4 linked regions of the Homo sapiens genome follow. The protein of the gene in region 4 purifies or fractionates together with the protein of the main gene of each other region. This does not show direct contact. Each region holds a gene or a part of one and is shown on either strand. Other genes may lie near its edges. The genes, in order: EXOC7, EXOC3, EXOC1 and EXOC5.

Evidence for each region.
Region 1: the proteins of EXOC5 (region 4) and EXOC7 fractionate together in Homo sapiens (co-fractionation; 4 studies listed by BioGRID and IntAct, with this or other methods). This does not show direct contact.
Region 2: the proteins of EXOC5 (region 4) and EXOC3 purify together in Homo sapiens (affinity purification with mass spectrometry; 8 studies listed by BioGRID and IntAct, with this or other methods). This does not show direct contact.
Region 3: the proteins of EXOC5 (region 4) and EXOC1 purify together in Homo sapiens (affinity purification with mass spectrometry; 5 studies listed by BioGRID and IntAct, with this or other methods). This does not show direct contact.

Annotation. Positions count from the first base shown.
Region 1 is NC_000017.11:76,080,516-76,086,815, forward strand, and holds the end of EXOC7 (exocyst complex component 7), read right to left. Parts: intron 5,631-6,300; coding exon 5,565-5,630; intron 5,283-5,564; coding exon 5,162-5,282; intron 4,895-5,161; coding exon 4,799-4,894; intron 4,066-4,798; coding exon 4,002-4,065; intron 3,775-4,001; coding exon 3,733-3,774; intron 3,625-3,732; coding exon 3,491-3,624; intron 3,236-3,490; coding exon 3,133-3,235; 3' UTR 2,139-3,132; coding exon of another isoform or gene 1,948-2,138; 3' UTR 1,535-1,947; coding exon of another isoform or gene 1,367-1,534; 3' UTR 1,241-1,366; coding exon of another isoform or gene 1,030-1,240; 3' UTR 888-1,029; coding exon of another isoform or gene 763-887; 3' UTR 501-762; downstream 1-500. Other genes in the region: ligand-gated cation channel ZACN precursor, read left to right, coding at 763-887, 1,030-1,240, 1,367-1,534, 1,948-2,138. UniProt on the Homo sapiens protein: Component of the exocyst complex involved in the docking of exocytic vesicles with fusion sites on the plasma membrane.
Region 2 is NC_000005.10:446,168-453,195, forward strand, and holds part of EXOC3 (exocyst complex component 3), read left to right. Parts: 5' UTR 1-38; coding exon 39-182; intron 183-653; exon of another isoform or gene 654-1,041; intron 1,042-1,171; exon of another isoform or gene 1,172-1,225; intron 1,226-1,365; coding exon 1,366-1,585; intron 1,586-7,028. UniProt on the Homo sapiens protein: Component of the exocyst complex involved in the docking of exocytic vesicles with fusion sites on the plasma membrane.
Region 3 is NC_000004.12:55,870,647-55,877,674, reverse strand, and holds part of EXOC1 (exocyst complex component 1), read right to left. Parts: intron 6,998-7,028; coding exon 6,770-6,997; intron 6,575-6,769; coding exon 6,442-6,574; intron 5,827-6,441; coding exon 5,717-5,826; intron 4,921-5,716; coding exon of another isoform or gene 4,867-4,920; intron 1-4,866.
Region 4 is NC_000014.9:57,202,904-57,209,931, forward strand, and holds part of EXOC5 (exocyst complex component 5), read right to left. Parts: intron 6,880-7,028; coding exon 6,664-6,879; intron 5,895-6,663; coding exon 5,706-5,894; 3' UTR 1-5,705. UniProt on the Homo sapiens protein: Component of the exocyst complex involved in the docking of exocytic vesicles with fusion sites on the plasma membrane.

The sequences.
Region 1 (6,300 bases), on a different chromosome or scaffold from region 4:
GGGGCAAGGGGAAGGGGCAAAGGCAGACAGAAGGCGAACTCCCAGGTCTGTGTTCAGAGCAGTCTACCCCAGGCTTAGGCGGGCAGCACCTGCTCTCCCACTGCGCCCCCCACTCGAGTGGCAGCCCATCTCTGTGCTCAGCGGTAGCCTCAGGGCCCCTCTCTAGGGTGACAGACTCAAACATTCGCAGCAGCTCTGCAATCCCAGAGGTCCGAGCACATCAGTCTTCTGTCCTCCCCAGAGCAACTGCCCTCCACAGCCATGGCGACTGCAGTGGCTCGGCCCCTTGCAGCAAGGCCAGAGGCTCAGGTTGCCATGGCCTCACTCCTGGAAACCACCTGAAGGTGCAGCCACCCTGTATAAACCCATCAGGTGACATCTAACTTGGCAGAGAAGTCCTACCCTTCCCTCCATGAGAGACCACAGCGGTAGCCCTGGGGATCCTGCTTCAGCTGTGAGATGATAGACTGACGAGCCTGTGACCACTTCTCCCTCCATCATGAAGTGGTGCAAAGTACATTTATTTTTACAATGAAAGCTCATCTATGAATCTGATAAAGGCCTTCCTTCAACTGGAGACAATTTGGGATGTTGCAAAACAAGGTTTGGGAAGCCCTTCTATGGATCGGTTTTGTGTCCAAGTCTGTCCCTGCCAAAAGCCATCAAAAGTCTCCATCACCCCTGGGCTCCAGTCTGCTACCCCCAGACTTGGCAGCTGGGATCTCTCCTTCCTGGTTCATAGTTCTCATTCCCACCCCTCAGCGATGGAGTTAGAGTTCCAGGCCCACGTGGTGAACGAGATTGTGAGTGTCAAGAGGGAATACGTAGTTTATGATCTGAAGACCCAAGTCCCACCCCAGCAGCTGGTGCCCTGCTTCCAGGTGACGGTGAGTCAAGTCGGGAGGAGGCCGACAGAGGGCTGCTGGAGGCGGGTGGGAGTGAGGATGCACGGCCAGAGGCCAGGCCCCATGCCCCCGATGCCCACCTCCTTCCCCCCCGCCGGGAAGGCCCTGACTTTTCCCCTTCCAGCTGAGGCTGAAGAACACGGCGCTCAAGTCCATCATCGCTCTCTTGGTGCCTGCAGAGGCACTGCTGTTGGCTGACGTGTGCGGGGGGTTGCTGCCCCTCCGGGCCATTGAGCGCATAGGCTACAAGGTGACATTGCTGCTGAGTTACCTCGTCCTCCACTCCTCCCTGGTGCAGGCCCTGCCCAGCTCCTCCTCCTGCAACCCACTGCTCAGTAAGCCCTGCTCCCTTACCCAGTCTGCCCTGTTTCTCCCCGGTCACCCACTGGTGCTCAGCTCGCTGGGCACCAGAGACACAGGGACTGGCCCCTGAGCATCTCCCTGTGCCCTGCCTCCCCCAGTTTACTACTTCACCATCCTGCTGCTGCTGCTCTTCCTCAGCACCATAGAGACTGTGCTGCTGGCTGGGCTGCTGGCCCGGGGCAACCTTGGGGCCAAGAGCGGCCCCAGCCCAGCCCCGAGAGGGGAACAGCGAGAGCACGGCAACCCAGGGCCTCATCCTGCTGAAGGTGGGCAGGGGCTGGGGGGTAAGGAATGAGGCCTAGGTGCACACCTAGGGCTGGGGTGAGGGCACGGAGGTCCAGGTGTGGGTAGAGGCCCCTTGCATCCACCCTGCTGGCTCTCCTGTCCCTGGTCTCCACCATGTCCTCCTCCCTTAGAAGAAACAGGTCTGGGGCAGGGAGCAAGCTGAGCCTCCCTGAAGTCCCAGGTGACCTCAATCCCCTGATAACCCATGCCTTGCACAGCCTAAGAGGGTGTTTCTTCAACTGAAGATGGCCTGAAATGGGCCAGACCCAAATTTTCATCAGCTGAGAATCTAAGAAAGGAAGCGATACAGGCTGATGACCCCTGGGGTTCGCTCTTCCGCTCATGTTGAGGGGACCTTGAAGAACAGCTCCTTTCCCTGTATCTCTCCCCACAGAGCCCTCCAGAGGAGTAAAGGGGTCACAGAGAAGCTGGCCTGAGACTGCTGACCGCATCTTCTTCCTCGTGTATGTGGTTGGGGTGCTGTGCACCCAATTCGTCTTTGCAGGAATCTGGATGTGGGCAGCGTGCAAGTCTGACGCAGCCCCTGGAGAGGCTGCACCCCATGGCAGGCGGCCTAGACTGTAAAGGGGCAGGGCCTGGGCTGCACACCTTAGGATGAAGTTTGCTTTCCCATGGCTGGGGGCGGGCCATGACAGGGCCTCTGGATTAAGCCACCCTGAGCTCTCCCTCCGCTAGCACACAAGCACAGAGCGTGAAATAAACCCATCTCCAGTGCAAGTGTGCCTCAAGGGTCAGTCTTCAATCTCGTCCTAAATAGGTGGGGCCCTATTTTTTGCTTCCAACCCCCATTTTGCTCCTTAACTTTTCCCCATTGTCCCTGTCTCCCAGCCCACAGGCAGGCAGCCTAATTGCTCCTTCTGCAACCACGACTGCCTGGCCCTGGGCCAAGAGGCACTGAGGCTGGGGGCCAGAGACAGGGGCCTGAGGAAGGCTGTAGAGGGTGGGGCGGAACTCCTCCTCCGAACGCCTCCTGCAGTGTGCTGGACTCTAGGGAAAATGGCCAGTGAGCCTGCCTCCCCCAGCCACCTAGGGGACTCCTGGGAGGGAAAGGTCCCAGACCTCAGGCCTGTGGGCGGGCGGGAATGTGTTTTAAGAGAGGGGGTCAGTCCCGACTGCCTTTCCTCCAGGAGCTCTGGCTGCTTCTCTGAGCCCTGCCACATCTCTGGGCTGTAGGGGAGTTCTCTGTCCCCACCTCTGACCTAGGCTGGAGGGAGGGCCCTTCTGCCCTGCTGCTCTTGGTACACATGGAGCAGCAGTGGGCACAGGCCTCTGTCTTCCTTCTCTCTTTTCCTGTTTCAGAAGCCATCAGGGTCATAAAAGCCAAGGTGTGGAGGGACCCCAGGCTTCCGGGAGAGTGCTGGTTCGGCTGGGAACACGGGCTGTGGGGAAAAAGCAGGAGCCAGGACTAGGGGGCTCAGGGACACAGCTCCCGGAGGCGTGGAGACAGGTCTCTGTCCCAGAGGACTTCAAGCTCACCCAGCCCAGAGGCAAGCTAACACTGGTTTATCTGTCCAATGACACGCCAGTCTGGTGGAACCAGGCAGGGCTAGCAGCAGGCTCAGGCAGAGGTGTCGAAAAGGCGATCGATCATGTCGCCCACCTGCTCCACCCCGTACTTGATGTACTTCTCCGGGTTCTTGGTGAAGGGCACGCTGCCAAACCTGAGGAGGCACTGTGGTCAGGGGACAGGGAGGGCCGACCCCTCCCCAGCTCCACCCTCAGCCTAAGGCACTCCTGATAGTCTTGGAAGGGGTGGCCCTGAGCGATTCCCTGTCTGGCCCCGCCCCAAAGCCCAGGTCGCTGGATCTGCTGCCTAAATCCACCACCCTTCTCCTTTTTCCCTTGAGGAAGAGGAGCTTGAAGAGGCCCACTGGGGCTGTGGGCAGCACAGGCTGGGAGGGGAATGGAGGCCTCACTTCTGTAGAAAGGCCCCGTAGGTCTCCTTGACAATGGTCTTCTGGGCCTGGCGAATCCTGTCCCTCTGCTCTGTGTCTGGAATAGCCCAGGCCTTCTGGATTTTGCACAGTTCTTCGAGGCCATCATTGAAGCCCTGGCCACCAAAAAGGTGAAAAAGGAAGGCACCCAGAGACAAACATTTTGGGTCTGTGTTGCCTCAACAGCAGCAGCAAGCAGTGGAGGGGAGAGGACCCCGACTCACCTTAAAACGCTCCTTGATAATCTGCCGCTCCTTGTCCCGGAGCTGGGAAGCCAGGAGAGATAGCAGAGAAAGCTCACTTCAGAGCAGAGCAGCCTTCCCCCACTCTTCCCCAAACACCCTTGGTCTGGGCCTGTCTCCTGTGTCCTGATGGCCACATGCATCCTTTGCTCTCTGATCCCAGAGGGATGCTTGTCCACTTTTTCCCAGAGACACGACAAAAAGTATCCCGTCTGCCAGACACCCCTTCCCAGCCCAGGTCTTGAGCCCACCTTGACTCCCGGCTGGAACACAGGTAGATTCTTCTCTGCGATGTAATCAGTCACCTTTAACCAGCTGCCAGACAGAAAGAGAAGCATGAGGGCAGAGGGTGGCCTGCCTCAGTGGCCTGGCTTGTTTCGTTTGCTAAATCTCTGGATCTACTTGGTGGGTGGTGGTAGGAAGGGATGTGGGTCACAACTAAGCAAACAACAGGTTTTCTTCCTGGGAAGAGAAAATCTTTAAACTGGTCACTTTTTGAGATAACATTAGGAAACACTTGAGTGTTCAATAAATTGGACAAATACTGTCAACTATACTTCACATCAATATCGTGGCAAACTAAGATGGAGAAACAGATGAGAAAGAAAGGAGTGGAGGGCAGATAAATGAGAAGGAAGAGGTAGACACATTCAAAGGGAAGAAACAAAGCCAGGAAGAAAGAGGACCAGAGAAGCAGCGGGATCCTCACAGAGCAAGGCTCAGCCACGTTCAAGTGCTCTCGCGACCTTGCTCTTCTCCTAGGTAAACATTACCCACGTCTCTGAGAGCCAGCTCTTCAATCATTCTTAGCCTTGACACTTGGCAGACTCCCCTCTAAAGTGGCCATAGTGGGCCCCTAGGAGCAGGTAGTGGTAGAGGAGGGGGCTTCTCTCTCCACCCCGTGAGTTTGATTAGAAACCAAGTGGAGGATTAGGGTCCAGAGGACAGGAGTTCCCCGTGACCGACTCTGTGTCCTGAGGTGCTGAGAAGGAAGAGTGCGTGGTGGCACAGGGGCCCATGCAGGAGCAGGGCGGGCCCAGCCTCTCACCTGCGCTGGTAGGTCTGGATCTGCTGCTCAATGTGCTCCCGGTAGGAGCGCTCAGCAGTCTTCTGTGTCACTGCCACCAGCTGGATCAGTTCAGACCTGGGTCGGGGTAGGGGACAGAGGAGAGGAGGACAGGATTGGCTCCTCAGGCCCAAAGGCTGCGGCAATGCCGGGAGGGCCTCCCATTGCACCCCAAACTCCACAAGCTCTATGGCATCCCACCTTCCGGGTCCTGGGGTGGAGGAGACTGAAGCACCCCCTCCCCTCTCGTCCACAAGAGAAGGAGCCCAGGGGGGCAGGGGCTGGCACAGCTGCACAGCCGAGGGGAAGGTGAGAGCCGCAGACTCACTCCCGCAGGCCACTTACTTCTCCAGGGACTTGAGGATGTAATTGTAGTTGTTGTGCAGGAAGATGGCGCTCAGAGCTGGGTCCTCGTACACCTTGGACTTGCTCAGCAAGTTCAACTGCAGGTTGCCCAGCACTTTACCTGCACAGGGAAAAATGGGGCCACACCCACCATGGCAGTCTGACCCAAACGACCCCACCCCAGGACCCGCGAACGCGCTCCTATCCATCGCTCCTCGTCCTGCCTCAGGAGGCCTTAGCCCAACTCCCCTCAGCCTCTGAACTAGAGGTCAGGTTGTGGTTCCAAAGATCAGATGGCACTTAGGAGAGGGCCCTGGGAATAGCCAGAGAGCACAGACAGAAGGAAGGGAAAGGCAGGGCATGCAGGCAGCAGGGCTGCTGGTCTGCCCGGGAGAACACTCACAGATATAGGTGCTTAGCAGCCGCTTGCTGAACTCAGAGCTGTAGCTGGTGGCCGAAGAGCTGGTCTCTGTGAGAGGAGAAGTCCTGTTATTGCAGTGGCAGCAGCCAAGACCCTCAACGGCCCTTCCCCCAGGCCATGCAGCAGTCTGAGGGGACACTGAGACAGGCCCTGGGCTTCCTTGGGCAGAGCTGGCTGCCTGCTAAGCCACAGGGTGGCCCCTGCCGCAGGAAGCACCAGCCCTGGAGTTTTTGGAACCCAGAGCTGCCCTCTATGATGGGATGGAGCTGGCCCATGTCAGCAGAAAAGCTGGCAGGAAAAGAGTGAGATGCCAGCGCCCTGTCCCCTCCTGCCCCCACCCACCCTGGGTGGTTTCTACAAGGCCCCCTTTTTCCTTTTGTCAACAGCAGAGTCTTAGAATGGGCTCCCCACAGCCTCTCCACCTTCTCCCCTACATTCGAACATCCCCTCTACCAGACCCTACTGAACAGACGAAGCTGCGGCCTGCACAGTGGGGAAGGCCGAGTGGGGACAGCAAGGCAGGGAGGCCGGGCGAGCCTAGGGGGTGTATCCAGGGCTCTAGCCTGGGCAGGTGCTGCGGATAAGCTCAGAGACAGAGTGGCCTTGAAGGGAGCAGAGAGAGTTGAGAGCACCCCGAGAAAACTCATGTCCCCTCTGACTCAGGCTCCCCAGTAGGTACTGAGAGTCAGTCCCCAGGGAACCTCACCCACCAAGCTTC
Region 2 (7,028 bases), on a different chromosome or scaffold from region 4:
AGCATGAACAGTGTGAGGATTCCACCAGCTTTTTCACCATGAAGGAGACAGACCGGGAGGCCGTTGCGACAGCAGTGCAAAGGGTTGCTGGGATGCTCCAGCGCCCGGACCAGCTGGACAAGGTGGAGCAGTATCGCAGGAGAGAAGCGCGGAAGAAGGCCTCCGTGGAGGCCAGATTGAAGGTGAGGCCACCTGCCCCACTCCCAGGATCTGTCTTGGGCTTCAGGTTCTTGCTTGACATCACCATGATGATTTTGCTAAACTAGCCTTTATGGTAATGTGCAAGGAGGCAGAGCTGGACTTTCTTGAGCAGTTACTTTCAGCAGTGTATTACCACTCAGTAGCTTTGCTTAGAAGACAGTGGGAATGGTGAAAACACCAAAGGAACAAGCTTTTAAACACCCTGAGGCCGGGTGCGGTGACTCATGCCTGTAATCCCAGCACCTCGGGGAGGCCGAGGCAGGCGGATCACCTGAGGTCAGGAGTTCAAGACCAGCCTGGTCAACATGGTGAAACCCTGTCTCTATGAAAATACAAAAATTAGCCAGGCATGATGGTTGACGCCTGTAATCCCAGCTACTTGGGAGGCTGAGGCAAGAGAATCGCTTGAACCCAGGAGGCAGAGGTTGCGGTGAGCCGAGATGGTGCCATTGCATTCCAGCCTGGGCAACAGAGTGAGACTCTGTCTCAAAAAGAAAAAAAAAACACAGAAACAAAAACAACACCCTGAAAGTGTCTATTAAGTTTTTAAACAATACTGGAGGAAGGAGAAGTAGTCTTATTTAAAGCTCTTCTACAGAGCACCACTAGAGGGCATTTTGTTCAGATTGTTTTAACTCACATTTGACAGAGAGCGGATCTGAAGCTCAGGTGCCGATTCTGTCCTGTGGGTCAGCCGTCCTGGGGCCAAGTGTGGTGCTGGCTGAACAGCAGGAACTCCCCCACCCCAAGCCAGTGAAGTCCTGACCGTTCTCTCTGCCTAGACAAGACCTTTTAGGAACCTAGGATGCCTGGGAGAGCATGGGTGACATCCTTCTGAAGGTACCGTAGCAGGCCACGGCCCAGGGCAGACCCGTGGTAGTGTCCAGGATCACCAGGTGTGAGGCTAGATGAGGAGTGTCCTGACCTTTTCTCATCAAGGCTTTAAAATGCATCATTGTTCTGTTCCCAGGCAGCAATGAAGAAAAAGGTACACTGTGAATCAATTAAATCCTTGTTGATTTTATTTTCTTTTCTGGGTATTGACTGTTTCCTGCTACTCAGTGGCTCTTTCCTGAACTTGACCCTCCTGGGGAAGATTTGTTCTTCAGGAGGCAGCGCATGGCTATCATTGGCTCTGCTCACCCGTGTGGCGTCTCTCTTTAGGCCGCCATCCAGTCACAGTTGGACGGGGTGCGCACAGGCCTCAGCCAGCTCCACAACGCCCTGAATGACGTCAAAGACATCCAGCAGTCGCTGGCAGACGTCAGCAAGGACTGGAGGCAGAGCATCAACACCATTGAGAGCCTCAAGGACGTCAAAGACGCCGTGGTGCAGCACAGCCAGCTCGCCGCAGCCGTGGAGAACCTCAAGAACATCTTCTCAGGTACCAGCCAGACGCCGAGGCACTTGCCCCCACTCACGCTGTCTTTGCATGACTCACTGAGTGCTCTGTGTGCAGTGTGCTTTGCAGCCCGCACTGTAGACCTGTAGACGGTAAGTGTGATTCTTGTCTGCTCAGCGTCTTTTTTTGAACGTGGATGGAAGTGATCAGCTGAGCATGTAAAGGCTAGGAGAAGGCTTGTAGTTCAGTGTCAGGACAGAGGCCCAGAAGCGGGCTGCCCAGCAAATGCAGTGTGGAGGGATTCCCTGGCTGAGTGTCGTTCCCTTGCTTGCGATGTGGCTGTTAGACTCTGTGAGTGCAGAAGAATGAAGACGCCGTGGCCCATGCTTAAAAGGAGCTGCAGGAGAAGCCACCCTGTGCATGGGACAGAGCAAGCAGATCCCAGAGCAGAAGGGTTGAGGCGAGCAGCAGCTCCCAGGCAGGAGGAGAAGCGTGTGTGCACAGGCCAGGGCAGAGGCGGGGCTGAGCGCCGTGGGGGAGTGACCCTTTCAGTCTTCTCCCTGAATGCCTCAGTTAGAAGGATGCCAAGGGCCCTGTAACCTGTCCCTGAACGGTGCCAGCTGGCCCTGGGTGGTGGCTCCCAGCATTTGTGTTCACAGTCTCCTCCTGCTTGCTGTGACAGGAGCTGCTTCCACAGCCTCATCCCTCCCCTTGGTCCCCGCTCTGTGTCAAGGTCAGCAGCATCCTTCCAGTCCCCAACTCAGAAGCCTTGGCAGGGTCTGATTCCTTCCCTTTCTTTGTTCCTGTCTCTGGCCTCTTGGCAAGTTCTTCCTGTTCCTCTACCAGACGTCTCTGCCCTGATGTCTGTATGACACTTCCCCATCCCCAGCCGTCACGTGCCCCAGCTCACCCTTCACAGTGGCTGTGCTGCATCATCTGTGACGCTGCTCGGCTCCTGAGGCCACGTGTGAATTGGCGCGGTTCTCCCCAGCTGCCCACAGCGCACCTTGGTAATCCGTGTCCCGTCCACCCTGTCCTCTCTGCCCTCCTCTCGTGCTTGCGGCTGCAGCATTGCCGAGCACCTTGTCCCGTTGCTTTGTGTGTGCCCTTCTTCCAGGGCATGATCCGTAGGGTCACATGTGTGGCTGCAGTCCGTGTCTCTTTGTGCATGCCCAACACGAACGCCACTGTGCTGCCAACTCAGAAAGCAGCTCTTCTTGGTGACTGTGGGCCGCCTGGAACAGGAATAAAGTCCTCTCGACGGAGTCTCCTTGGTGATGCTCAGCTGGCAGCTTTCTAGTTAATTTCCTCTTATTTCGTATTGGCTGGCTACATTTCCTTCCGGTCTTTTAAACTAATGCCTGATGACCAAAAAGGTGCATTACTGGAATTAGTTTATCCACAGCAGTTGAAAATAATTTCCTTTCCTTGGTGAACAAATGAGCCTGCGTGGTATGCATGTTTTTTGTTACGGATAAATTTTCATTGAGAAGATTGGTTTGGTTGCCTTCAGACTTGTCTCATTGCCTATAACTCAGCAATGCTGTGTACACAGCTCCCCTCCCCCATTTTTTCTTCTTCTAAAATGCATATGTACAGTTTGCCGTCTTAACCATTTTTAAGTGTACAGTTGGGGACTATTAAGAACATTCATATTGTTGTGCAACCATTGCCACATCCGTCTTCAGAACTCTTTTCATCTTGCAGACATGAAAATCTGTACCCATTAAACACTGACTTCGCACCCTCTGCCCCAGCTCCTGGTCACCACCATTCTGCCTTCTGTCTCTGTGAATTGGATGACTCTGAAGACCTCATAGAAGTGGCATCACACATTATCTGTCTTTCTGTGACATGCTTATTTCACTCAGCATGATGTCCTCAGGGGTCTTCTATGCTGTGGTATTGTAGAATTTCCTTCACTTTTAAGGCTGAATAATATTCCATTGTATGGATGGACCACATTTTGCTTATCCGTTTGTCTGTTGGTGGACATTTGAATTGCTTCCACGTTTTAGCTATTGTGAATAATGCTGTAGTGAACATGGGTGTACAGATGTTTTACTTTTATTTCTTTCTGGTATATACACACAAGTGTAATTGCTGGACCATGTGGTAATTTATGTTTAAATCTTTGAGCAGCTGCCAGACTGTTTCCTCCGGTGGCTGCAGCATTTTCCACCATGAGTGTGTGAGGTTTCTGATTCGTCTGCATTTTCATTCTTCTCTTAGGTTTTTAAAAATATCCCTTATGGCTGGGTGCGGTGGCTCACGCCCGTCATCCCAGCACTTTGGAAGGCTGAGGCAGGCGGATCACCTGAGGTCAGGAGTTTGAGACCAGCCCGGCCAACATGGTGAAACCCCGTCTCTACTAAAAATATAAAAATTAGCCGGGCGTGGTGGCAGGCGCCTGTAATCCCAGCTACTCAGGAGGCTGAGGCAGGAGAATCACTTGAACCCAGGAGGCAGAGGTCACAGTGAGCCGAGATCGCACCACTGCACTCCAGCCAGGGGGACAAGAGCGAGACTTCATCTGAAAAACAAAACAAAACAAAACAAAAGTCCCTTATGTTTCCTTTTTTGCCCCATTAATTGTTTAAGAGTATGTTGTTTAATTTCCACAAATTGGTGAATTTTACAGTTTTCCTTCTGATACTGATTTCTAATGTCATCTGTTGAGTTTGGAGAAGATACTTTGTATGATATTTATCTTTTAAAAACCTGAGTCTTAATTTGAGGCCTAATCCATGGTCTTTCCTGAAGACTGTCCCATGTGCACGTGAGAATAGTGTGTGTTCTGTTGTTGGGTGTTCTTTCTGTGTCTGTTCAGTCTGGTTGGTTGGTTGCATTGTTCAAGTCCTCTCTTTCCTTGTTTAGCTTCTGTCTGCTTGTTCTGTCCATTATTGAGAGAGAGATATTGAAGCCTCCGACTATTACAGAACTGAATGTTTTTCCCTTCAGTTCTATCCATTTTTGCTTCATGTATTTTGACGGTCTGTTAGTAAATGCAGAAATATTTATAATTGTTACATCTTCTTGCTGAACCTTCTATTAATACATATGGCCTTCTTTGTGACTAGTTTTTTTTTTTTTAATTTAAAGTATATTTCATATTTATTAGTATAACCACTCCTGTTCTCTTTTGGTTATTATTTATATGGAATATCTTTTTCCACCCTTTTACTTTCAACCTATTTGTGTCTTGGGCTCTAAGGTCAGTCTCTGGTGAACACATAGAGTTGAATCATGTTTTATTTTTTAAATCTATTTTGTCTACCTCTTTTGATTGAAGATTTTAATTAATTTTGCCTACCTCTTTTGATGGAAGAGCTTACATTTAAGTGATTACTGATAAGAAGGGACTTCTGTCATTTTGCTGTTTGTTTTCTATATGCGGTATAACATTTTTGTCTCTTATTTCTGCATTTTTTTTGTGCTTTTGATTATTTTGGTAGTAAACATTTTAATTCCCTTGTTTCTTTTGCGTATATTCTATAGCTGTTTTCTTTGTGCCTACCATAAAGATTACACTTAACATCTAACATTATCTCGCTTCAGTTTGAATTTATATCAACTTAACTTCAATAACACACAAAAACCGTCCCTATATGGCTTCATCTCCACTCCCTTTGGGTTGTTCATTTCACAAAATTACATCTTTATATATCATGTGTCCAAAATCATAGACTAATAATTGTTTTTTAATGCATTCATTTTTAAAAATTAGGTAGAAAACAATGTGGAGTTAGAATCCAAAGTTACAGTATTAGTAGCTTTTAGACTATTTTTTAATGTATTAGTTTCTTTTTTATTTGTCCCTTTTAACCAGAACAAATATTAGTCTCTTAAGTCATGTACGAAACAGAGTGATGAGTTAAAAACTGAAGTGTTAATGATACTAGATTTTACGATTGTCCATGAATTTACCTTTTTTGAGGCCTTTGCTTCTTCACGTGGCTTCCAGTTGCTCTCTAGCATTCTTTCTTCTCAACCAGTGGGACTCTATTTAAGCATTTCTTGCAGGGCAGATCTTGTGGTAACAAGCTTTTCAGCTTTTGTTTATCTGGGGATGTCTTAATATCGCTCTCACTTTTGAATGACCATTTTGCTAGATTTAAGGTTCTTGGTTGACAGTATTTTTCTTTTAGCACTTTGAATATGTCATCCCACTGCCTCTGGCCTCCAAAGTTTCTGGTGAGAAATCTGATCTGCTCATAATCTTATTTTGGAGCCCTTGTTTCTGACAAGTTGCTGCTTTCAGAATTCTTTCAAAAGTTTGATTAAGTTGTATCTTAGTGTGGACCTCTGAGTTCCTCTTGCTTGGAGGTCATTGAGCTTCTTGGATCTTCATATTCATGTCTTTCATCAAATGTGGGGAGTTTTCACCTATTATTTCTTCAAATAATGTCTTGCCCATTTCTCTCTTCTCCTTCTAAAAGTCCCACTAAGCATATGTTGGCCTGCTTGATGATGTCCACAAGGTCCCTGAGGCTCTGTTCACTTTTCTTCAATCTTTTTTCTTTCTGTTCCGGATACTTGATATTTCCCATTGTCCTGTCTTCACATTCACTGATTCTTTCTTGCGCCTGTGCAGATCTGCCTTTGAATCCCTTTAGTGAATTTTTCATTTCATTTATTGTACTTTTCAGCTTCATATTTTCTGTTTGGTTTCCTTTTGGATTTTCTGTCTCATTATTGGTATTTCCATTTTGCTCATACATGTCTTTCTTCACATCTTTAAGTTCCTTAGGCATCTTTAAATCGTTGTTTTAAAGTCTTTCTCTAGTAGATCTGCCATCAGATCTTTTACAGGAACAGTTTCTTATGTTTTCCTTTGAATGGGCCATACTTTCTTCTTTCTTTGGGTGCCTTGTGATGTTTTTGTTGTTGAAAAATGGACACTTGAATCGAATAATGTGATAACTCTGGAAATCAGATCCCCTTCCCAGGTTGATGATTCTTGTTTTTGGTTGTTGTAGGCTCTCTGTGCCAAGGCACAGCCTGAGGTGTGAACTTCAAGGTCGTGTCAAGTCTTTTCTGAGCCTATGCCTTTGCCTGGGCATGCATTGGCCACTTCCGAATTTTTCCTATAAATGCAGTTACTTTTGAATGTCTTCATTCATAAATATCTGGCTTTCAAGAAGGGGAACAGATGAAGGGGGTGGTGAAGACATTGGCCCTTTAAATTCCCTGGAGCTCTGTGGGGGTGAGGAGGGACCTGTGAACAGGGGAAGATGCAACAGTGGCCACTTACCTCTTCGCACCTCTGTGGTCAGAAGCAGCAGTCAGTGATCTGAGTACAGATCTCCGGTGTGGAGGACAGGGTTCTTTTTGCCCAGCCAGGCTGCAGGCTGTGTGCAGGCAGCTTTAGGAACACATCAGCACATGCACAGCTGCCTGCGGGGTGGGAGGTGGGGCCTCGGTAGCCACTGCCCAGCTGAGAGCTGCAAATGACCACAGTTAACCACAGTTTACCATTTATGCC
Region 3 (7,028 bases), on a different chromosome or scaffold from region 4:
TCAACTACCCATTCCGTCTTTTAAAGGAATGAAGATGGAACGTTTTAATGAAGCTTGTCTCTCTCATACCATATTTCACAATTTACCAAGCAAATGACCTTCTTGATATAGCTTGAATTAAGAAACACAAATAGAGAAATCATTCAAAACAGTCTACATTTATGGTATTCCCATTAGAGTTTGTAATATTTAAAACAACAGATAAAAAAAAGTAGAATATAAAGTCTTAGAGCTTGGAATTGGAACCTTGGTCATCTGAGTCTTACTTCTGTCTTGGAGCAGATTCAAATTGAAAATACAATTTCCCAACAACAAGCAAAAGGCAAACCAAGACAGATTTATTTGATGTAATTTTCACTCAATCTAATTTGCCTAGATAGCCAGAAGTTATTTGTCAGCATTTTGTGAAAACTGTATTAAAATTACACAGACTGCTAGAGTTTTGGAGCTAGTTAACTCATTTCCTGATAAGGTTACCTAAAGCTAATTATGAATGTGTATCATACTAGTTGGTACACATTAGCTAAATAAGCGTCCTGAATTTAAATTCTTTTAAGTTAAAAGGGATTTCTTTCACCTAATTTATATACTGTACTATATACACAAAATAACCTAGTGGTTATGAATTTTAAAAAATTTTCTTTTAAATACAGACTATTCAGAAGGAAACATTTCTGGCCTAGAGGAAATGAGGAGTTCCTTGGTAACTGAGAAAGAAAGATGGGAGTATAAGACATGCCAAGTACAAAAACCCACATCATTATCCATGTCCCTTCTTCATAAATGTTTTCAAATCAGTCTGTTGGAAAATTTTCTTCATGTGAGAATATATCCCAATTTAAAATGGAAATTAAAAAGAAAAAAGGACCCATTATACAGAAATTACATATAAAATGGTAGAAAACAACCAATACACTTCTCAGATTCATCTTACTGATATCTACTTAGGTTAACTTGGGAAACTGAACTAGAGATGGCAGAAAAATATCACAAAATGAAACTGACCAGTTCAAAATAACAAGAACTAGAACACAGGGGCAACAGAAGTTCACAGCTACCACAGATGTTATACACAAGGTATATTAATAGGTCCATAATCCCTTTCTGTAATTCTGACAGCCAAAAAGCTCTGAAAACTCAGACTAAGCTTGGCACCAAAACAATTTTGATGGTAAAATGTGACCTGAACTGACATGGGCCTATTTATAGTGCTTAGAGTGACTATTCATATTTTTTGTTGCAAAAACATGTGCTTGGAGTGATTATATAATATACAGTATATATACTGTATTGCTTTTCTAAAATCTGAAACATTCTAAAAACACTCCTGACCCCCAGAATTCTGGATAACGGAGCGTAGACCTATGTGGATATTCTTTTCTGGGTGGCTACCTGAATATAAAACAATCACATCTTCCAAAAGAATCAATGAGGACTAAGAGCTAAAGTGTTGAAGAATGGAACAATTCTGTATTTTTAGAATGCCTGGGCTACCATATCTTTTCTGTAAGGGCTAACAATAAAGATGAACAAAATCAATAATATTAAGTAAAATACACAGGCATTACCATTGGACTATTATCTATTTCTATGTTGCCAAAGGTCAATATAAACATTCTATTACAGAAATGTTTTCTAACCAAGATGCCAGAAGGATAATCAGGATTCTACAGCATCACATGTATTAGATACTAGCCAGATATAGATATTATAGTTTTAGGTCTATAAATGTCTCCAAATTGTGTTTTATTTTTTAAAAATTTATTTTTATTAATAGAGATGGAGTCTTACTATGCTGCCCAGGTTGCCCCCAAACTCCTGGGCTCAAGTTATTGGCCCACTTCAGCCTCCCAAAGTGCTGGAATTACAGGTGTGAGCCACTGCGCCTGGCCTAAACTATGTGCCTTAATTGGTCACGCTGATTAAAGGGGAAGAATATTTGACAGACTTATATCATACAAATGTTTACCAAATAGTTTTTATTAGTAACAATGTATCGTTATCCAAAACAATCTTCCTCATTAATTTTTCTCAATGATTCAAGACTCAAAATTATTGTCTATGTTCTTCTACTACTGTTTACTCAGGCACAAATGTCAATTAACTTGTTCAAGGTAACCCAGCTAGGAGGTAGGAGAGTCAGGATTTTGAACCCAGGAAGTTTGGCTCTAGTGTCTGCACTCTTAAGCACTTTGCTATAGTGACTTTTTTAAAGAAATGATACATTGGGGTCAAAATTTGAATAAATTTTCAAGATTTGGAACTCCTTCTTTCTGTTATGGCATACTTACTTATTCTTTTCTTAAAAAAAAAATCTGAGCAAAGTTCCAACAAACCTCACAAAAATAGATCTTAATCACAAGTCTTTCTAAGCTTTTAACCAGAGATCATCAATCCGTGTTTACAAATATGCTTAAGGAAACAATTTTTGTAAAAGAAATTGAATGCTGGTGGTCTGCAATACAGGTTTTATTTTATTATAGCTTGTTTCTGTATATGTATGTTGAGAGAAAAATTTCTAAACTTAAGCATATGGTAAAAAGTTCCACAACTTCAGTTTTTTCCTGGTTGTACTTTTAGTTCAGTGCATTTCAGTTTATTTTCATTTTCTCTAAGTTATGTACATAATCAGTCTCATCATGTTGCTAAAGGCAAAAGTAGATAGAATCATGAGGTCTCTGTAGAACCAAAGGGGGAAACAAAAGGCAGAGAGTAGTTATCAAAATAAATCTTTCAAAAAACAACCAAAACAATTTTTTAAAGGACATATTCTTTATGCAAATATTTCCTCAATTTCATTAGCCTTAATTTGACTGTTTTCAATATCATAATCCTAATTAGTGTAAACTGACCAGATTCTCATTCTTGATCTTTCTAGATACAGAAATCCCTAGTAAATGTAAAAATTATGGGCAAGAGCCTATAATTTCAGGGGAAGTTGAGTGTGTAAGATCTGAAAGATCTAAAAGAAGCTAACTACTCTTTATGTAACATTACTCTCATATTATATTACAGTGATTATTATATTAAAATACACTTCAAGTTTCACTTAAGTATAGATAACACAGAAGTATTAATAGGAAAGTTGCATTACAGATAGCATGCTCTGGATCAGTCATTCCCAAATGCAAGATGTTTTTCCTGGCCTATAGCAATAAGAAAAAGTACAATGAAAGAAGTGAGTCCTTCATAAGGGTAAATGTATTAATTTTTAAAATCGGAAAGGAAATTCTTATTCTTTTAGTGCCAAAATGTCATTTTTAAAATGAAAAGATAATGAAAGTGGATAATAGTATTTCTTTTTAAAGGTCTTTATTTGGTAAAATAAAAAAATTGGTGATTTGGTCAGTCTCCGAATTTTATTTCTTTTAATTTTACTAATTTGTGAATTTTAAAAAGACTGAGAATCAATGCTTTGAAATTACTGTTATATTGTGAATAGATTATTTTCACTGGATTCTTCAGTACAATATTTGTAAATGTTGTAACTATACATTTGCTATAAACTGTATTGCATGGACTCGTTCAAGTCCTACCTTATCTGCAATTCCTTCCATATCTCACTCCTTAAATTCTCAATAAACTCACTTTTGATTAAACCTTTTTAGCACTTACAGTCCACAGTTCTACAATTAGCAATTTATTACATACATTGCTAATGTACATTAGTCTTAACTCCTTACAAAGAGTAAGTACATTAGTTTTAATTCCTTCTTACAAGCATCTTGAGGGTAGGAACTATTGCTTATTCTTATATATGGTAGACAGTGAGTACATAATAAGCATACAATGAAAATTCTGTGATTGCCAAAGAGGTGTACCATATTATTTTAATCAATTTTCCCAGCTTGTCTCCCTACCAGGAATAGAAATACCCATGTTTCTCAACAATTTTGCTAGGTGACCTGATGCACTGAATGCAACACTAAGAAAATCTTTCTTATGTGTGGGATATCTTCTTCCACCGTTTTTGGCACACCCCAGGTTGTCGCAGCGTTCTGATTTTTAACATGCATCACTCACATGTAATAACACATATCAGCTTTTCAGAAATGGGAAGCATTCATTTTAAACGAGGCCATTAGTTTACAAGGCAAGAAGCAAAATCATAAATAACTGCATGTTACAACAAACAGTTAAGGGTACAGAAAAGACTATTGTTTACTGGCTGGTATTTTCAATACTATCTAACAAATGTGGATAACATAATTGTCAACAGTGTCATTTTTAAAAACTAAGGAATTGTATAGAAATAGATGTTATTGAAGTAAGTACCTAACAAAAACATGAATTAGTATTTCCTATGTGACATTTAAGCTTACTTTTTTCTCGACACTTTTCAGTCAAGTGGAATGTTAAGGGAATCTCTCTGATTCCCCCCTACCGTGCTTTTAGTTAGGTGGTCTTCCTTTACACTCCCACAGTCTCGCTGTCATAACATTTATCCCTCTTGAGTATATTATTTGTTTGTCTCGCTTCCCTAGACTGTGAACTACTAGAGGACAGGATTGGTCTCTCATTTATCCCAAGTTAATGTCTGGTATGTACCTCAATCACCTGGCAATACTAAATAAATGAAGGATTAATATTACTACTATTACTAAATGAAGGAGTAATATTACTATTTATTACTAAATGGAGTGAAAAAATGACAGAAAGAAAAGCAAGCAGAATGAGATTAAATGCTTTTTTGGCCAAAATAGTCTCTACTATGGGACATTTAAAAACTGCTACGAATGTGGTTAACAGGTAGCTTAAATCAGTAAGTTATAATCTGTAAAGATTCGGCTGCTGTTAAGTTTAGCAAACTTTATAGAAAAAAAAAAACAGAATCAGAGAAGCTTGAGCCAAATTTGATGTACTCACAGGAACCGAAAGAAAGTAGGACCTGTTATAGAGTTGAAGGAGGGCCTGAGTAAACTAATTGGAAATAAAATATAGTAAATACAATTGTTTTAGAATATTGCAAAGTGAAAATAAAGTAAAAATCCATTGTTTTCAGGCAGTATTTCTTGATGAACGAGATATTCCCCCAATTTTTTTTCATTCTATAACTCTAATAAAATAAAAGGGACTTTTAAAAGAGATGAAAAAATAAGAAACCTAATTTATTGTATTAGATATTAAAATGGCTTTTATTCAAATCCCTCAAAGGTACTCTTAATATTATTAATAACAATATTATTACCACACTCTTAATTATAACATCCTTTTCCATATAAAAATATAGGTAAAGCATTTATATGAAGATTAGATCAACTGAAATTTGCAGTTGAGCTAGTCATTTTCTTAACAATTATACTATGTACTAAGTACATAGAACTTACAAAACATTTAAAACACTGAATCAAGTCCTGAGTCTCACCTCAAAATACTGAAAAATAAAACAGGTCCAATAGTAAATATCTAACAAGTTTGGACTTACTTTATAAATAAAAATATCTAAGTAGTATATGCAATTCATATGCATAGTTATTTGATTTCTAGAATCAGAGAGCATCAGCTGAAAGGAACTAGACTGTCTACCAAAAGAGGCAGCTGAGGCCCAAAGTACATCTATGAGCAAAGAGGCTCCTATTTCAAAATCTTAAAATCAAATATGTGAAGGAATTGACTGCAACCCCAATTAAACATATTAACATTTTTGTGGAAATGTAAGGTTAATACATAAATAAGCTATAGGAACATGCTCGTTTTAATAATAAAATAAAATTACCTGTTGAACAAAAACATTGTTGAGGTGACTGGCCAGTCTCCGGGCAAAAAGCTCTCGCAAATCACTGAATCGCTGCTGTTGCTGTTTGACTGCCAGAAGCAAGTCATGGCCTGACACAGAACGACATTTTGTGACCAGTTTAATGGGTAAAAAGATTTCCTTGATGTTTAATGGAACATTAAACGTATCTAACGTTTTGAAGAACCCAAAAGTTTTATGGGTGTATTCATTTACATGATAAAAGTTAAGCAGGAGAAAAATGGGATTTCACAGTAGTTCTCAAAGTGTGGTCTTGCCTCACCATCGCCTGGGAACTGTTAGAAATGTGGATTCTAAAATCTCAGCCCAGATCTGCTGAATCTGGGACTGGGGCCAGGCAATCTATGTTTTTAACAAGACCTCTAGGGATTCTGACGGACACTCAAGTTTTGAAATAATTGCTCTCGTCTAACCAAAGCACCTACTTTCTGCTGGGTTCTGTGGATAGTACTAAATAAAGATCATGGTGTTGACTATAGTCATTGAGGACAATTAGAAGGAGGAACTGAAGTAAAAAAGTTCCTAGTATCAATAGAAATAAGTTGGGAAATCAGTGAAACTTGAATAGCTAATAATGTAACCCTTAAACCACTTGTCTCATGTATTTCTTGTCAAAACCTTTATAACAAGTTACAGGCTTAGTCTCACATTCTTGGTCACATTTTTGTCATTTCTAATGAACATACCTGGTCGAAGAGCTACATTCATGCACTGCAGAAGGGCATCAGCAGCATTGGTGCAGGCCTCAATGCCTCTGGAAGAAGCAAGATCTCCTTCCTGAAGGGCCTTTATATGACCTTTGGCCAAGTCCATGTGGTTCTAGAATATATGCAAACACACCATTTGCATGTGTAATTTTGGGAAATTTACAGGCAAGATGCTATTCAGTCCTATCATTAGGTCTTTGGAATTATTTTAAATCCTGTTCTCACAAGGAAATTAAAAAATGTTTACAAATGGGTTTTATATATCATCACTAGTTTTTTTTTGTTGGTAATTTATGATCATACTTACCACAAGGAACTCTATCTCAGATAGGAGTTTTACATTATTAGTGTTACTAAGATGAATTAGGTGGTTGCTTTCAGAGATCTGATCCATTTGTTCTTTTACACTTTGGAGCATTTCCTCATAACTGCTCAGTTTCAATTCAATCTGATCTACCTCCTTTAGAGCCTCATCTAGCAATTTCATCAGGATGTTGACTTGTTTTTCAGATGCCATGATTGACTGGATGTTAGCCTACAAAGTTAAAGACCAAAACAAACAAACA
Region 4 (7,028 bases):
TTGAAAATACATTCTACTGGAGAACTTAAGAGAGGCACTTAGGTATTATTCCTTATAAAATATTTTCACATAACTTCATGTGAATCCCCCATGTTATCCTCTAAATGGTACACAGTATTCACAAACAATATGCTTAGAGGTAGCTTCACAGTTTTCTTTACATCCAGCATTGTCCAGACTCTATTTGGATATTTTCTATAGCAAAAACCTAAAGGTTATTTATTTTTCTAAAAACAGGGACTCACTATGTTGCCCAGAGTGGTCTTGAACTCCTAGCTTCAAGTGTTCTTCCCACCTCAGCCTCCCAAGTAGCTGGGAAGCTGCAGACTTGATAAAAGTGCTACAATAAAAGGCCAGAGTTGAAAGGAACCAGTTACAGTATAAAGATTAAAATGATAGGCAGGCAAAGAGGGATGGCCTCACTTAGAGGCACCTGCCAATTTAAGATTACAGGGGCATCAGGAAGGCTTCTCACCTCTCAAAGTTTAATCTCAAAACTCTGGAAGTCCACCAATGGAGACTAATTCCTTTGTTAGTTCTATCCAAACTTCACTTAGTTTATTAACATAAAGATAACTGGAAGGGATACGACACTTTCTTCATTTAAGATTCCCAGTGGTGAAAACAAAGAAAGTCACTCATTGGAACTATAAATGAAACTTAGCTTTCTTATTCCAGGTTCCTACTTCCTTCCTTAACCCTCCATATTTCCTCCTATTAAGTCACTAGGCACTTATAATTCTACATTTTACTGACCTTTCACTGATTATAAAGTAATTTAAGTGATTTTTGAAAGTAAACTTAATTCCAGTTTCAGACTTTTAAATTAAAAGTGGCTCAGTTGGATACTGTCTCTTAAACACAGTAATATAAATATTAGTATCTTGGCTAAAATGAATTATTGACAATTTTAATACATGTTGCACAGTACATATTAATATAGAAAAATACATGTTATCAGCAGCATGATGTTGACCATGTTCTAATCCATTCCACCTGCTCAAATATTAGTGCAAATAATTATATATTTGTAATGCATCACTGCTGTCTAGCAAAATCTATGCCTTCTGAATAAATGACTTTCCTCTGAGGTTGACTGCTATGTGAAGTATGATGTGATATATTCCTATTTAAACTGGCTTTGTATGGTGAGGCAGACTGCAACCTTCTAAACCACTTAGAAAATGGGCGAGTGTGTTTAATTACTCATCTTTCCCCCCAAAAGTCGATAATCACAAAACAAAGGTTAATGGTACCTATCAAATAATAATGATAAAATACCTCGGGTCTAGTTCAAAAATAGGAATTTTGTTAAGCCCAGGGGCAGCCTAGCTGCTTTAATTTGGCAATTAAAATTTCTGTTCTCTAAATGTCAGGTTTCTGTCCCCTATACATTTGAACAGTTGTTTCCTCCCTAAATTTGTAAAGAGAAATGATTGATCACTGGTAGAAATAAAAGGTAAGAGTTATGACAGCTTTTAAAACCCTTAACATGCAATTCTGATTACATGAAAATGACTATCTACTGTTAATATACTAAATATTTTGCCTTACATTTTCACTCCAGCATTAGTCATTTAAAAACTACCAATGTACTAAATAGTTAACACAATTGGCAAGCCTATGACATTTAAAATAGTTTTTGAACATAAAAACACTGATTTCTTCATATCTTCCAAGGTAGAGTTGTCATTTACTTCTATGTCACAAAATATAGTACAAAATATTTGGTCTCTTTCTATTGTGAAAATTATCAAGCTGGAAAAGTATATAAAATAATACCAATAAAGATTTGTGATAGACATATTTCTATTAGGTACAAACTTAACATTAAAATTTCATGACCACTTATAATATTTAAAAAATCAAATTTAAAAAGTATGACCATACATTGAACATATTAAGAAAAACACAACAGTAAATTAGATATTGACCCTGTATGCCAACTTTGTAATATAAATACTACAATAAGAATCATATTGGAAGCAACGATTAAGCAAAACTAATGAACCTATCAAACTAAAGGATCTATTTAACGTTACGTAAGGAGAATAGCATATAGAACCTAAAAGTGAGTGAGAAAAGATTTAGGTTTCAATCTGAGCATTTTACTAGCTGTAGACCTTGACTGGTCTACTTATCTTTCTATGCATTAGGTTTTTCATCTGTCAAATGGAAATAATAGTACCCAAATCCTAGGGTTGCTCTAGAATCCAATAATATGTGCAAAGGACTTATTAGCACAGTGTGTGAGACTTAAATCAATACATGTAACTATAATTATCTTTATTATGCAGCAAAATTTTTTAAATTGCTAACTTTTAACTTCATGTAGAATTATTCAGTCTAACAATATGAACTGATCTTTTCTTCTAAAGTATAGAATAATTACAGGATAGATCAGAGAGAAATAATACAGAAACTGAATATAGTTAAACTAATTGAATGAAAGCACAAAATGCTTTGTATGTAAAATTCAACAATATATGGGTAATGTGCAGAATATTTTTGCGTTAAAAAAAGTTAATCTCCCAGATGTGAGCTTTGTTAGTCACCAACAAATTATGTACTGACTGAACTGCTGTCTCTCAAACACAGTTCAAGCATGCCTTAGCCACTACCTTAGGTACTTGACCACTTTAAGGGGTTTTGTGGCATTTCAAAAATCAAAATCTCTTTATCCAGATCCTTGTAAATATTCACCATTACAGGTAAGAAAAACGCATTTTAGGGAAGCAGTGAATTCTCCACTTGGAATCAATCTACTGATTGATAATTAAATTATTTCACTGTGAACCAGAAGGCTAGTATTTAGAAAGCAAAATATTTAGAAGTGAAAGAGGGGGGAAAAAAGAATGATCTACAATGTAATATAAATTAACCTAATTTAAATTAGATTTTAATTTAACCTACTTTGATAGTTTTTTAAAACAAGGAAGATCCTAAGGACTTGCAACTATGGCAATCCTCAAAATGGGACCAAAAATTGTCCTGGAATGGTCAGGTGGTCATCCATCTAAAGATCCATCCAGCTACTATTTAATAATTCTTCATAAGGACACTTCATCTACTCTGGTTGACTGTCATTTTCAACATCATAATTTACATAAGGTAGGCTTCCTTTATTAAATTCGTATTCTGTATTTCAGATATTTCTCAATTTTAGAAAAACAATGCACAGTGTGTTAAGAGCATATTTTCAACTTCATTCAATGCATTACCTAAATACTGCATATTAGCTCATGCGGTATTGTGTAATACTGCAAAGACCGTACTTACGTAAATGTTGGTTAAAGTTACCAATTATACAAAGCTCCACTCTCTACCTAAAATTTTACCATGTGCAAAACGAAAAACATTTTAGTTATTGATCATCTCTTCTGAGCCATACACTTTGGGCAAAATTTTGTGATGGCTATAAATATGAAAACACTTAAAAAATCAGAATACAAAGAATGCATATTGCCTCACATGACACATTTTTTTTTTTCCCTCAGAGAAAGACCATCTGTTTAGGATAAATTTCTAGTCTTGTTTATATAGTCAAGTATTTTTTGCTAAAAAAGAAAATGAGAAGACCTGTGCTGTGAAAAATTTTAAAAATCTCAAATTTTTAAATAAAAAATCATTTATAAAATTCAGGATGGATGGCTCTAAAATATAAAAAGAGTGAAATAAAAAAAACAACTGCAGGGAATTTGTTTATTGAGCATTAATGTTAACACTTTTAAATTAAGTATTCACTTACGAATTTTGTCACTGTCCTATCAACGGACATAATAGAAAATATTGCACAGAACTCAAACATGAAAATAATAAACAAAATAACTAAGCAACAAGTATATGCTTTACATTTTAAAAATTAATCCAAACAAAATAATTTGAAGCACTTCTCTGATTTGGAAGTCTTAAAATGTTATCTCATGTTTTATTTGAGATTTTTTTTCGTTTTTTCTTTTTTACAAATTGACACTGTACAAAGAGCTTAAATGGCCAGTAAAACTACTGCCTTAAAATTGTTGGCTTTAAGTAACAGAGGTAAAATTTGAATTCACATCAGAGCTTTCTAAAATGGCAATAGTACAAGCAAATGACTTTCTCTAGTATCCAAAACCTGCGCTGGCTCTCCCTTGGCTAGAAACAAGACAGCCTTCTAAAGCTGCCATAATGTCCTAAAATGCTCTGAAAGAAGTTGGTATACTTCATTCCCCAGCTTACCTTGGTAACACTGGACTAAACAGAAAATGAAGAAAATTCAGTCAATAGTAACTTAAACAGTACTAAGTTAGCTCTGGACTTAGAAGGTTTGGTAAAGTTGATGACATTCAGAATAAGGTTCTCAGAAGAAAAGCAGTTTTCCAAAAATAGGCTAAAAAGCCTATATTAAAGAAAAAATGCCAAGAGTGAATTGAATACTTAAGTTTATCTGTTCCTAGAAGACTATGAACACCACAATGGGAGCTGAAACACTATATATAATTTAGAATGCATTCTCCCAGAGCAAGTTTATAAGGTTTATAGAATAGTAATGGCCTTTCTAAATTTTCACTTGATATTTAAAATTTTATAAGTGATTTATTATGTCATCAAATTAAGCCAATTCCATTAACTATATCCAAGTAGGAATAACTTCAGAAATGCTTTGAAAAAGGACAATGACAGACCTATAGACATGAAAAGCAAACAGCCTTTGCAAAGCTCATCTCCAAATCTATCAATTCTCAATTCTTCTTAAAATAAAAGACTAACCACATGTTCAGCCATTCCATCTTATTCAAGTTTAGCATTACGACAGAAATCTCAAAGGGCTGCATGTTGCTAAACACTGTCAGTATTTCCTATATGCACCATTTAGACTATACCTCACTTTTTTTTACTTCCCTTATAATATTAAAATAATGAATAAATATGGTCCTTTAGTTAAGGTCCTCCACCTTAAGTGAAATACAAAATAAGGTAGTTTTATTAATTTCTTACTAGAATTGGCTTAAAATCTATTTACCAAATAAGAAATAGTAAACTTTTAAGTTTTACCCAGAAAGCAGAAGTATTCCGATCCACTCCTAATGTCTACATAAAATAGTTCATCATTTTAGTTCAGTTTATGACATTTTTTGGACTAGTATTAATGCTGTACCTCAGAAAAAAATCCAATCAACCAACTGCAGAAAGTATGCTTAATTGTTAACCTTTTGAAAGAGGCAAAAAAATTATTTACGAAAACCTAAAATAATCTGATTAACAATTGATGCTGAAAAGGTCATTAAAAACTGAGGAATAACAAATGTAGTTTTCCTGTATTTCACCTATTATTAATGGAAAACAGAATGGCAAAATTTCTAAATGGAATATGTTAAAAGTACAAGAACCGAAAACACTGGTAACATTTCCTTTGCCTTCTGACAGCAACATTTTCTAGGATAAAAACAGTGACATGTAGTTTTAGAGAATCTGAAATTTCTACATTCAAGAATGGAATTAAAATTCAATGTGAGGGGAAAAAAGCAAAATATAGCTAGTGGTATCCAAACTTTAAATAAAACCTCAAAGGTAAGTATGGCTGCTGTTTTGTTCCAGTCATTGTTTCACAAAATGTTGGCTGTGTCATAAGGTATCTCCTGTGCTTTCTATCAACCGAGGGCTGCTGAAGTATAAGACATTCCTCTGTAAAGGAACTGACACTGAATTCCTTTGTAAATTCAATCTCAGCTGAAGTGTCGAGCAAGGCGGGCAGATCTATAATCAGCACGAAGTTGTACGAAGGAGTGAAGTATATTCTTGTCCAGATTAGCAAGTTGTTCTCCTGAGCAGACTTGCTTTAAATTATCTGGGGCAACTACCAGAAGATTGCAAAGAGCATGCAGAGTATCAAAAAGATGTAATACCATTGGAATCTGAATTGAGAGAAGAAAAAAAGTAACATTGAAACAAAACAATTTCCAGTTTTACAATTAGCTTGTAACTTTTTACATACTGTCAGGTGGGACTTACTAGTGTGGGTGAAGTTCAACATATTAGAATTTTTTAAAGATCACAATGCATTAAAACTTAAAGATTTCAGTAGTTAAATAAACTTGCTATAATATTTCAAAAAGATTCATGTGTCAATTCTCTTCAATAGTAACAATCATATATACTTCAGAGGACTAAAACTAGTTATTAACATACAGCATTTTTCATAATTTAAATGTTACAGAAATATTCAGGGGGACATAAATGAAGACAACATTTTTTTCCTAATGTGTGACATATATAACATTAGTCATGGATGTCAATAAGTCAAAGACTGTGGAACTGAAAATACACCATAAAGCAAAAATGGGTTTAATATTAAATATATGGGCCAGATGTGGTGGCTCATTCCTGTAAACCCAGCACTTTGGGAAGCTGAGGCAGCAGATCACTTGAGCCCAGGAGTAAGAGACCAGCCTGGGCAACATCATGAAACTCTTTGGAAAAAAAATAAATAAAAATTTAAAATTTAAAATAAAAAAAAATAATAATTGGAACAACACTGTTTCAGGTAGAATGTGATAATCTATCTCATACAATATCAACAAAAGTTATAAACCTTTCACTAATTATAAGTAAATAGTGATTTTTAATAATCTGACTTATGCTCCTGGGCCTATTTGCAAGTTTGATGTTTTTGTGTACACATACCTTGAAGTCTTTGGCACACTTCCTATATTCGGCTACATCACAAATGGCCAACATGCCACCCATACAACTGTAGGAATATTGTTGAAGATGCTCATAGATAAGTCGATGAAAACGTACTCCAAGTTCCATCAAAACTGTATCCACATTCTTCCCATCCATGGAATTTTTAATCTTCTCCACTTGTTTTCTTACGTAAGCACAGACTTTTACACAGGCCTATAAAAGTTTTTCTACACTCATTACACAGGAATGTATACCAGCTTAGCTAAAGAGGAAATACAGTTTCTCATTAATCTTTAAGTATAAAAGAAAAAAATCTAGGGCACAGTAGGATACACCAATGAAAATGTTAACAAAGTATTAAC